4 separate regions of the Homo sapiens genome follow, and regions 2, 3 and 4 are each linked to region 1. Evidence: fine-mapped expression QTL. A gene starts in region 1. Each other region holds a variant in brackets. All regions are shown on one strand. Distances are from middle to middle. Region 1 holds the start of C5orf63 (chromosome 5 open reading frame 63). Region 2 has its middle 88 kb from the start of LMNB1. Region 3 overlaps MARCHF3 (membrane associated ring-CH-type finger 3). Region 4 has its middle 75 kb from the start of C5orf63.

Evidence for each region.
Region 2: its variant is fine-mapped to the expression of C5orf63 in whole blood (TOPMed, PIP above 0.99).
Region 3: its variant is fine-mapped to the expression of C5orf63 in whole blood (INTERVAL, PIP 0.93).
Region 4: its variant is fine-mapped to the expression of C5orf63 in lung (TOPMed, PIP 0.96).

The regions. Positions count from the first base shown.
Region 1 is chr5:127,072,132-127,074,821 of GRCh38, forward strand. C5orf63 (chromosome 5 open reading frame 63) reads right to left here and starts at 1,371. Exons shown (of 5, transcript NM_001164478.2): 1 at 1,320-1,371. RefSeq lists a silencer at 1,228-1,447.
Region 2 is chr5:126,863,500-126,866,189 of GRCh38, forward strand. No RefSeq gene overlaps it. Among named protein-coding and RNA genes, the nearest start is that of LMNB1, 88 kb to the left of the region's middle. The variant G/T (reference allele first, on the strand shown) is at 1,146.
Region 3 is chr5:127,025,161-127,027,850 of GRCh38, forward strand. All of the region lies in intron 1 of MARCHF3 (membrane associated ring-CH-type finger 3), which reads right to left. Among named protein-coding and RNA genes, the nearest start is that of MARCHF3, 4.1 kb to the right of the region's middle. The variant A/G (reference allele first, on the strand shown) is at 1,471.
Region 4 is chr5:127,147,070-127,149,759 of GRCh38, forward strand. No RefSeq gene overlaps it. Among named protein-coding and RNA genes, the nearest start is that of C5orf63, 75 kb to the left of the region's middle. The variant G/A (reference allele first, on the strand shown) is at 1,103.

The DNA.
Region 1 (2,690 bases):
TGCCTGTTTAAAGCACCAGCCCCACCAATCTTAATTTTCACAACAGGGTCTTTCTGGTTCCAGGCAATTCCTCAGCAGAGCAGGACGCAGGTTATTGGGCTACGATATTTCACACAGAACCATGATTAGTTCTGCTTTGCCCCAGTATTATCATAATTATCCAATATTTCCAGGGTGTATCTTTTTTCCCCGTGTTTTAAATCTTTCTAATTACCTATAATGCACCCCAATGTATACAGCTCCAAATATTGGTAGAGAGCTTCACATGCATTTTTATAAGCTAGTCCTCAGAATATGACCAAATGAGAAGACTGCGACCTCTAATAGACACCTCAACTTGTTCAGCATTGTGCACCAAGGCATAGCTCTAGTGGCTGCTTAAACAAGACAATGTATACTAATTCTGGGAAATGCGCTAGAAAGTATTGGGATATAACAGATCTTAGACACCATCTCTGTCCTTGAGGAATTGAGAATCTTGGGGTCAAGCTAAGGCCATACTATGGATTTTTTTTTTAAGGGCACTAAAATATAAAGTACCACATATACACTATTTATTAATAAACAAGAATAAAGATCACCCAAGCAAAACATTCCCTGTGAAAGACAGCCTTAGAAACAGTCACAAGCCTAACTCACAATGACATTTTAGTGGGGACTTTTCTACCCTTGGACTTATTAAAAAACTGTATGAGCTGCTATTTGTCAGAAGTGAATATCTGTTGAGAATGTACAGTTTCTGATTTATTCTCTCATTGTTCAGTACCCAGAGGGCTGCTTTTGCCCAATAAGGCTGAGAGGAGATCCAGACAGCTCATCCAGAGAGCCCCGGCACTCACAATGTTCCCTGCTGCACCTTTCAACCTTTTCACCCCAATTAAAGGTCAACATGGCTGCTCAAAAATATTTATTTAAAAAGGCAGTCAGCTCAGCGGGCTCCCAAGTGTGATTACACTACCACTTCATAGAATTCAATTAAACCCGGGACGGGGCATCGGCGAATCACTGGAGGAGTATGAAGTTGAGATGTTTTCTGCTTTCTCGAGATGTTTTCTGCTTTCTCTTAAAAAAAAAAAAAGCTTCCTTTTCCCGCCCGTCATTTATTTACTTCCCAGAGCGCTATCACAGACACACACACACGCGTTTATAATCTCCCCCAAGTAGTTCATGGATTTATGGCTCCCGGTTTAATTAAATTCCGTATAACGACTATCCAAATGGGCAGCACGCGGCACAGCGAACCCCCGCCAGCCTGCGCGTCAGCTCAGAGGCGGAGACCCGCGAGCGCTCACCCTCGGCGCGGGACTAAGGGAACCCACCTGAGCCTCACGCCGCCAACGCCTCTGCTTCCGCCCTGCGCCGGGCACTTCCGCCCGCACCCACCAGGCGCCGGCCCCAGGCCCCGCACTTCCGCCCCACGCCGGCAGCACTGCCGCTGGGCGTTCTATCTCAGGTGGTGTCCCGTCTACGCTCTCAAGGGTGGCCGCGCCTGAACCTTTACTCGTGAAGAGTGACACACAAACCAAGGCCAAACTAAAAAACAAAATACGGAAAAGTGACCCCGCATGTTTGGGAACCATTTAATAAGAGGCCTCAGGTGCGGGAGCCAACTTTTTGAGGCTGCGGAGTCCGAGCCATTTTAACCGCTCTGCATGCATCCATTCTTTCGTTAATTTAATATTTACTGCCTCCTCCACTAGGTCTTGGCTGAACTAGGTTATGGGGAATGCGATGAGCAAAACTGGCAGCCGTACCCTCCCGCAAACTGAAAATCGTGTGAGAAAGCAGATATTAGGAAATTATCCCTTATTAAATAGGCCATGGGTTTATTCAGCTAAGTGCTTTGCAGGGAAGGAATATGAGAAAAGACCTGAGTGGGATCTCGTTGAAGAGGTAGCTTTGGGGCTGGGATCTGAAGGGCGTGGGTTGGGGACAGAGCTCTGCAGGCTGGGGGAAGGGTCTGGTGGAGGATGTGCAGTATGGGTTGTATGCGGAAGACTGACGAGTATGGCTGAGACTTAGAGGGAATGGGGAAGAGAGGTGGAAACAGGCTAGAGAGGGTAAGCGAGAGTCTGGCCATGCAGGGCCTTTCAGGTTTGTGCTAAGGGTAGCCGGGGGGCATTTCTGTTTTATGTGGGAAGGGGATTGAACTGATTGCTTTTCCCTTCTGAAAGGACCCCTTAGCTTTGGGAAGTAGATGGGAAGGGTTTAGGATAGGCAAGAGTAGAACAAGCAGGGAGGTGAGGAAGCTACTGAGCATTCCAGGTTCTAGGTGTGGTGGCTTGAATGGTGGTACAGTAAATAATGAGAAAATGATGGATAATAATTATAGTAATACTCAAAGCTAACATTTATTGATTGCTCACCAAAAGCTTTATACTCATTAGTCTGTTTAATCCTGAGAACAATGCAATTAAGTATTACTAGTACCATTTTACAGATGAAGTAATGGAGGTTTAATAACTTGCTCAAGTTCTCACAGTTACAAAACGGTAGATTTGGAATTCCATCTCATGCTGTCTGACGCCTTAAGCTTACCACTATAAATTCAATGTGTACTCAGTGGTTTTAAAAAAGATACAAAGCAAACCAAGGTCAGGAATGAATTCTTTAAACAAACCACACTGATTATGTGATGTCGCTAGAGGCCACATTAAGATAGTAGAATTTACAAGTTCTTTGTCACTTCA
Region 2 (2,690 bases), 210 kb before region 1:
ACAAGACCAAAATAGTGAAGTTAAATATGTCTTCGTCCAATAACCCAGCACTCCCACTGGTGGACACTGATGCACTGAAACTTTCTGACAGGCTCATATGTGGATGAGCACGAGGATGTCCATCACAGCACTGTTGGCTGGGTCAGGGAGCTGGAGGTAACATTAAGGGAATGGAAAAGTAAAATGGAATCCCAAACAGCCATTAGCAATGAGGTAGCACACGCAGCAACATGGAGGCATCTTAGAAACAGTGTTCAGTGAAAAAGGACAGTTGTAATATCGTTGATGTAAATTAAGACATACTTACAAAACAATATGTTTTGCAAAGAAGCATACATATTCAATTTATAATATCAAACATATTAGAGAGTGGGTGCCTAATGGAGGAAGGAAGGAGATAGGAGTGGAGATTAGAAGTGAAAGGGAAAATATTTAAAACTAGTGGCTGAGTCCATGCTCTGATTGCATGGTTCTGAATCCCAGCTGTGCCTCTAACTAGCTCTGTTACCTTGGGCAATTAACAACCTCTTTAGTTAAGTGTCCTCATCCCTAAAATGGGCTGGGGACGATAGGCGAAGACGGGCTCCAAAAAATTCTGTCCTGCCCTGTCTGCGTGTAGCTCCTCCCACAAGAGGCGGGCCTGTGACTGCTTTGACCAATAGGATACAGAGTAAGCACTGCCCTGGGACTGCCTAGCCCCGTGTTTAAGCAGGAGCCTTGGGCCGCTGCCACTGCCATTTCACGGAGTCCTACAAACAGCTGCCACGTGGAGAGGCGGGCCACATGGAGCAGCACTGTGCCATCGGACTGTGTAAGACACCTGGCAGAGGTACTGCCCAGCTGTGGCCAGATCAACCCGTGGAATAATGAGATACAATAACGTAGTTGTTTTGGACCACTAAGTTCTGTTACGTGGCACTAGATAAGGTTATGAGGATTAAATAAAGTAATTTTATTTTTTTCTCTTTTGACACAGGGTGTCGCTCTGTCCACCAGGCAGGAAGTGCAGTGGCGCCATCTCGGCTTACTGCAGCCTCGACCTCCGGGGCTGAAGTGATCCTCCCACATCAGCCTGTTGAGTAGCTGGGTCCACAGGTGCATACCGACACACCTGTCTAATATTTTGTATTTTGTGGAGAGCTGGG[G/T]GTCTCACCGTGTTGCCCAGGCTGGTCTCGAACTCCTGGGCTCAAGCCATCTGCCGGACTCAAGCCATCTGCCTGCCTCAGGCTTCCAAAGTGCTGGGATTGCAGGCGTGAGCCACCGCGCCTGGCCAGGAGGTAAGTTTTAAAGTGTTGGATAGGGCCGGGCTCATTGGCTCACGCCTGTAATCCCAGCACTTTGGGAGGCCAAGGCGGGCGGATCACGAGGTCAGAAGTTCGAGACCAGCCTGCCCAACATGGTGAAACCCCACCTCTACTAAAAAAAAAAAAATAATAAAATAAAATAAATTAGCTGGGTATGGTGGTCGCGCGCCTGTAATCCCAGCTACTCGGGAGGCTAAGGAAGGAGACTTGGGCCTCCATAGCCGTTTCAAGACGCCCTAGAAACAGATGCCACGGACTGAACCCCGGAGGTGGAGGTTGCAGCGAGCCGAAATTCCCCCACTGCACTCCAGCTCTGTACGACAGAGTAGGATTTTGTCTTAAAAAAAAAAAATCAAAGTGCTGGATAGTGCATGGCTCATGAGAAGGGCCTGGCACTATATACATATTTGTGGAATAAAAAACAAGGACCTAATGGTCACAGAAATAGTGTCATGACCAAAAATGTAAGATTAACTTAATTCTTTGCACATGATGTTCACAGATAAGCTAAAACCTCTGCTAAAGACTCATATATTCATTTCCTTGATGGGAAAACTATGGCCCTGATTGATAGATGAAAAGTGTATTCCAAAAAAGAGAGTGTCTCATAACGAAGCAGGGCTCCCTGAGCCAACTCTCCTTCTGTTGTCTTTGTGCACAGAATTTAGAGCCTCAAGAAAGCATTGGATGTATGAGCTCAGTGACTCACGAATGTCTCATTTCTGGGAACACAGACAACTGATGGGCTATATTCGTTTTCCTCTGTAGCACTAGACCCAGAACTAGCAAATTTTTATCTGTAATGAATTCTCAATTAACCCTAGGTCTTGGTATCAGGAAATACAGGGAAAATAAAAATCTACCCATAATTCAAAGATCTCAATCAAATCAGTAATTTCAACCTCCAGAAAGTTATCTTAATAGTTCTTTTTATTCCCAAGCACAGTGCACAATAAATATCTGTTGATTATTTAAAATTAATCCCTCTTCCATTTGAATAAGAGTTAAAACAATTTGTTTATGGTCTTTCAAATTGATTATTAAAATTGTTCTTTGAAACCCTGGCTAGGGCAAAATAACCTAGATGGTAGCAACAGTGAGTGAAAGGATAGAAAGGGAGTGGCACCACTGTTCATCTGTGAAGCGGGAGCTAAGCCTTGTGAATCTTACAAGAACTATATGAGGTAGATACTGTCTCCATTTTACAGGAGCAAAAACTGAGGCTTAGGTAGATGGGGTCACTTTTCTGCAATCTGCAGCTGGGGCATTATGGAGCCAGGATTCAAACTCACGTCTTGGCTGTGCATGGTGGCTCATGCCTGTAATCCCAGCACTTTGGGAAGCTGAGGAAGATGGATTGCTTGAGGTCAGGAGTTTGAGACCAGC
Region 3 (2,690 bases), 47 kb before region 1:
AGGGAAGAAAACATTGCAAAATAGAACAAAACAGCCATAGGTTTATAATATAGTGATATTGATCACAGATTTTCCTAAGTACTCCAGGGCAGCCACACTATTATATATGCCTCTGATTAGACCCAGAGATGAGAAGGAAAAAGTTATTAAAAAAAAAAAAAAAAAGAAAGAAACTAACCAGGGGAAGGCCTGCTGCTATAATAAATTATTTAAAGCAAGCAGGGTGAGCAGGTTGTGAGGACAATATAAAACAGAATCAATGCCCCCAAGAAACCCCAAACCGTCTGCACCTCTATAAATTTCTTACCACCCTGTCTGGCATTTTACTGGAGGTATTTCTTTTCCACCATCCTACCCACCCCACCCCTGACCCTTCACTTTTTGCCCAGTTCTTTTCTCAGAGCTTAACATTTGTTTTCCTTCTGTAACCCAGGATGCTGTCTTCAGTTATATTTTTCAGCTTGTATCAGGAGAGTGTCTGTGAGGCCACAGATGAGTGCATCTGTCACTTCATTCATCTGAATCTTAAATTTCCCCACTGACACTGTAAGCTGGGAATATCTAATATGACACACATATCAACATGACTTCAGTATTATCCTTCATCTTTTTCTTTCTTCTTACTACTGCTATCATTAAATCCACAAGCTTAAGCTGTTGTGAAACTTCTGTAGCTCAATGACTGTCGTATATTAGAGGATATTACTAGACCCAAAAAGCTAAAGTGAAGGTTGGGAACTTAAGGGGGCATTTCGGAGGAGAAATGGTAAAATGGCTAAAATGGAAGAACTGGGAGATGTTAAGAGGGCAGACTGATTTAAAAAGTGAATTTTTTACAAGGAGATTTTGCTATGGGGATAAGGGTAAGAAAAGAAGCATAAAAAACTTGAAAAGAACTTGTCAAAGGAAAGTTAGATGCCAGAAGAATGCCATAGCTAAAAAAAAAAAAAAGTTATAATAGAATTGTTGCTTAGAAGCTTGCAATGACCTATGGCCCAGTTTCAAGAAAAGCAGCATTCTACTATAGTTTTTGTAACTGGGCAGAAATCAGTCCCATTGTATGATCAGGGGCTGTGGATAGTATATTTTAGGCTTTTCCATTTTTCTAAGTCTATCCAATCACACAGAAGCTAGGCAAATAAAAGCAACCCTATTTTGCCAGAGTGAAAACATTAGCAGCTTAACATGACAACAGACAAAACAGCACAGGGCTAAAACACATGTCTAAAGGATTCTATACGTAGGCTTTGCCGCTTTTGTAATCTGGGACTTTTAGCAAATTATTTGCCTCTCTGGGTCAAGACTGTCTGGTTAAGGTCAGGGTCATTGAACTAATTATTATATATGGTAGTTAACTTTATAAAGAAAACTACTACAAGGTCACATTCAATATAAGAAACAATTTGAAGAAAAAGGTTAAAAAATTGTAGATGATATGAACGACTAAGCATAACCCTATCATATCACCAC[A/G]ATCCTAAATCAAAACAATTTAAGTTGCAAGGCCAACTTCTCAGTTATTGGTGTCATCTTTGAATGTGAAAGACAAGATCTAAATATTATCCTTTTGTAGCTGCAGTTTGCTCATCTGTAACAAAGTGGAAAAAAATCATTGTCCTCAAAGGATTGTTAAGGTAAGTGACCTATCAACATGCCTGCCAAGTGCTTCTTTAAACAGAAATTACTCTGTAAAAGTTCCAGTGACGATCCAGTGGTCTGGAACAATCCAAGTTTAATACCCTGGCCTATACACATCCTTTTGTTATCAGGATACTTCTCACCTCTGAAAGAAGTCATTTGTTTTTTTAGCTACTTGGATGGTAGAAAGAGGGAAGGGTAACTTCTGATAGATCCTTTCTCTTTCAAACCTTATTTAGTAGTCTTAAATGGAGAATTATGCCAGTCTGAAATGGGAGAACAGAATCCAAATGTCAGTATCAAATGATAAATAAAAAACTAATTGGCAATAACTAATAAAAATTCACAGTGCTCTCAGTGAAAGGGGAGGTAGCAAACAATTCTCAACCCACATCTCTGTGACAATGAGAAAATCTATTTACCCAATTAATTGGGCAGCTCAAAATACTCCTAAGGTGACTTTCAGAAAGTAAGAATCTCTGGGCCTCTGGGTGGGTGGCCTGGGACACTCTTCCTGGCCACAAGCAAAATAGTCACAGCTTCCCAAGGCGATCATTGACCTCATATAGTCTGTAGTAGCCCAGCTGAGGTGCTGGGCTTTGTTCTAGAACAGCTTTTAAAGAGAAAAAGGGTGCCTCATGAAGATAAGGATTCTACCTTGCAGGAGGAAATGCTCAACCATGTGAATTAGGACTGGCAAAGTCACCCCAGAGCATCCCAGGACCCCACCGAACTCAGAGTGGGGGGTGAAGGAACTAAGACTGGGGTTTGTGGGGTGGGTCTTAAATTCATCAGGTCTTGTTTCATCAGGCAGACTTCCTTAGAATCAGGGCCAACCTGGAATAGGGATAGCTGAGGATTCCAAAACACTTTCAGATGTAAGACAAAAGGGGTCCATTGTTGAAGACAGAGAGTTAATGCATTACCTATAAATTTCACAAGGCCAGTAAATGCCACCTGGACATTTCTCAACAATTATTTGTTAAATCAACTCACAGACTATAACTGTTCTTTTATGTCATTAACACAATTCCAGTGTTTCTCAAAGTACAGTG
Region 4 (2,690 bases), 75 kb after region 1:
GAGATCTCTTAGCAAATTTCCAGTGAACAACAGAGTATTACTAACTGTAGTCATGAGGCTGTACATGAGATCCCCAGAACTTATTCAGCTTATAGCGGAATGATTGTACCCTTTGACCAACATCTCCCTGGGCAACTACCATTCTACTCTCTGTTTCTATGAGTTTAACTAGTTTAGATTCCACATCGTATTAGGCTGATCTCACACTGCTATAAAGAAATACCTGAGACTAGGTAATTTATAAAGAAAAGAGGTTTAATTGGCTCACGGTTCTGCAGGCTGTACAAGAAGCATAGCGGCTTCTGCTTTTGGGGAGGCCTCAGGAAGCTTTTACTCATGGCAGAAGGCAAAGCAGGAGCAGGCACAGGAGAGAGAGAGGGGAGGTACTACACACTTTTAAACAACCAGATCTCACAAGAACTCACTACTAGAACAGCACCAAGGGGATGGTGCTAAACTATTCCTGAAGGATCTACGCCCATGATCCAGTCACCTCCCACCAGGCTACACCTCCAACACTGGGGATTACAGTTCGACATAAAATTTGGGCAGGGACAGAGATCCAAACCATATCACACATATAAGTGAGTCTATGCTGTATATATCTTTCTGTGTCTAGTTTATTTTGCTTAGCATAATGTTCTCTAGGTTCATTTATGTTGTCACAAATGGCAGAATTTTCTTTTTTATGGCTGAATAATATTCTATTGTGTATATGCACCATGTTTTCTTTTTCTTTCTTTCTTTCTTTCTTTTTTTTTTTTTTTTTGAGTCAGAGTCTTGCTCTGTCGCCCAGGCTGGAGTGCAGTGGTGTGATCTTGGCTCACTGCATGCTCCACCTCCTGGGTTCACAGCATTCTCCTGCCTCAGCCTCCCGTGTAGCTGGGACTATAGGTGCCCGCCACCACACTCCGCTAATTTTTTGTATTTTTAGTAGACACAGGGTTTCATCGTGTTAGCCAGGATGGTCTCGATCTCCTGACCTCGTGATTCGCCTGCATTGGCCTCCCGAAGTGCTGGAATTACAGGCGTGAGCCACCATGCCCGGCCTGCACCACATTTTCTTTATTCACTTGTTGATAGACATTCAGATTGTTTCCAC[G/A]TCTTGGCTATTGTGAATGATGCTGCAGTGAACATGAAAGTGCACATATCCCTTCAAGATCATGATTTCATTGCTTTTGGATACAATAACCCGAAGTTGGATTGCTGGATCCATATGGTAGTTTTATTTTTAATTTTTGGAGGAAACTCAATAAATTTGGAGGAGACACCATTTCCATAACGGTGGTACCAATTTATATTCCCACCAATGGTGTACAAGGGTTCCCTTTTATCTACATTCTTGCCAACATTTGTTATTTTCGTCTTTTTGGTAATAGCCATTCTAACTGGAGTGAGATTAGATCTCATTGTGGTTTAGATCTGCATTTCCCGAATAATTAGTGATGTTGAGGATTTTTTTTTTTTAATATACCTGTTGTTCATTTGTATATCTTCTTTTGAAAACTATCTGTTTAGGTCCTTTGACCATTTTTAAACCGAGTATTTAAGTTTTTTTTTTGCTATCGAGCTTTATGAATTCCTTAAATATTTTGGGTATTAACCCCATATCAGCTGTATGGTTTGCAAATATTTTCTCCCAACAACAGATTTGTTTTTAGTGTGATAAATCCATATTTTTGCCCAACCTGTGAAATAATTCAAACATGCAAGAATCCAGACTGGCAGCCACTTGGAAAATGTTGCCAGCCTCCAGCTCTTTCTGGGCAGCACCTTGAGAATTGCTGTGATAATTACCTAGTGGTGGTTCTTAACTCTGGTTGCACATTAAAATCACCTGGGAAACTTTTAAAGCCTTCTCATTCCAGACCAATTAAATACAAAATTCTAGGGATAGGGCCTAGGCACCAGTGATTTTTTTTTTTTTTTTTAAAGATCTTCAGGTGATTCTAACATACAACCAAGGTTTAGAATCAGCGGCTTACTGTCATGTTGGGTTACTGTTGGAGTCCGAATGCCCTAATAACAAGAAGCAGAGGTGAGCACCCGCTCTGCTCCTCACAGCCCTCTGCTTTTTGTCTGATTGGAGTTATATAAAGCCCAAGTGGAACTAAGACTAAGCACGGTAATTGTCATGGCAATGCCCTAGATTTTCCTATCAAATCCAATCTTATTTAGGGTGGGAGACACAGAAGTGACTCTTGTGAAGTTAAAATACTTCTGCCCCTATTTAGAATATTCAACATTAAATTTGACAGAGTTTTGCCATGAAATTTCAAATACCAAAACTTTTAAAAACAGCAGATCTCACCTGAACCACAAAAGTTTATCATTAATTGTAAAGTGTGCTTGATCTCAGAGAATTATCCAGGCAATCAGCATCATGCATAGCCTTTAATGCCTCTGTCTGTGGAGCATGAGTTCTGCATATTGATCACAAATCTGAAAATTTCTCTGCTTATGCCTCATCACTCCTGTCTTTGATTGAGTATAACATAAATGGAATTTGAAAATCATGGAGCTGGGGGGGACCTGTGGAAATTATTTTGTCTAGTGCTTTGCCTTTACAATTGTATGTCTAATCTACTAACACAGTCAGGCTACCAAGGTCCCTTGTTAAATTCATGAATGCCCTAGCATGGACAACTGCAACATCCTTCTAACTGGCTCTGTCTTCCTGTTCCCCTTTT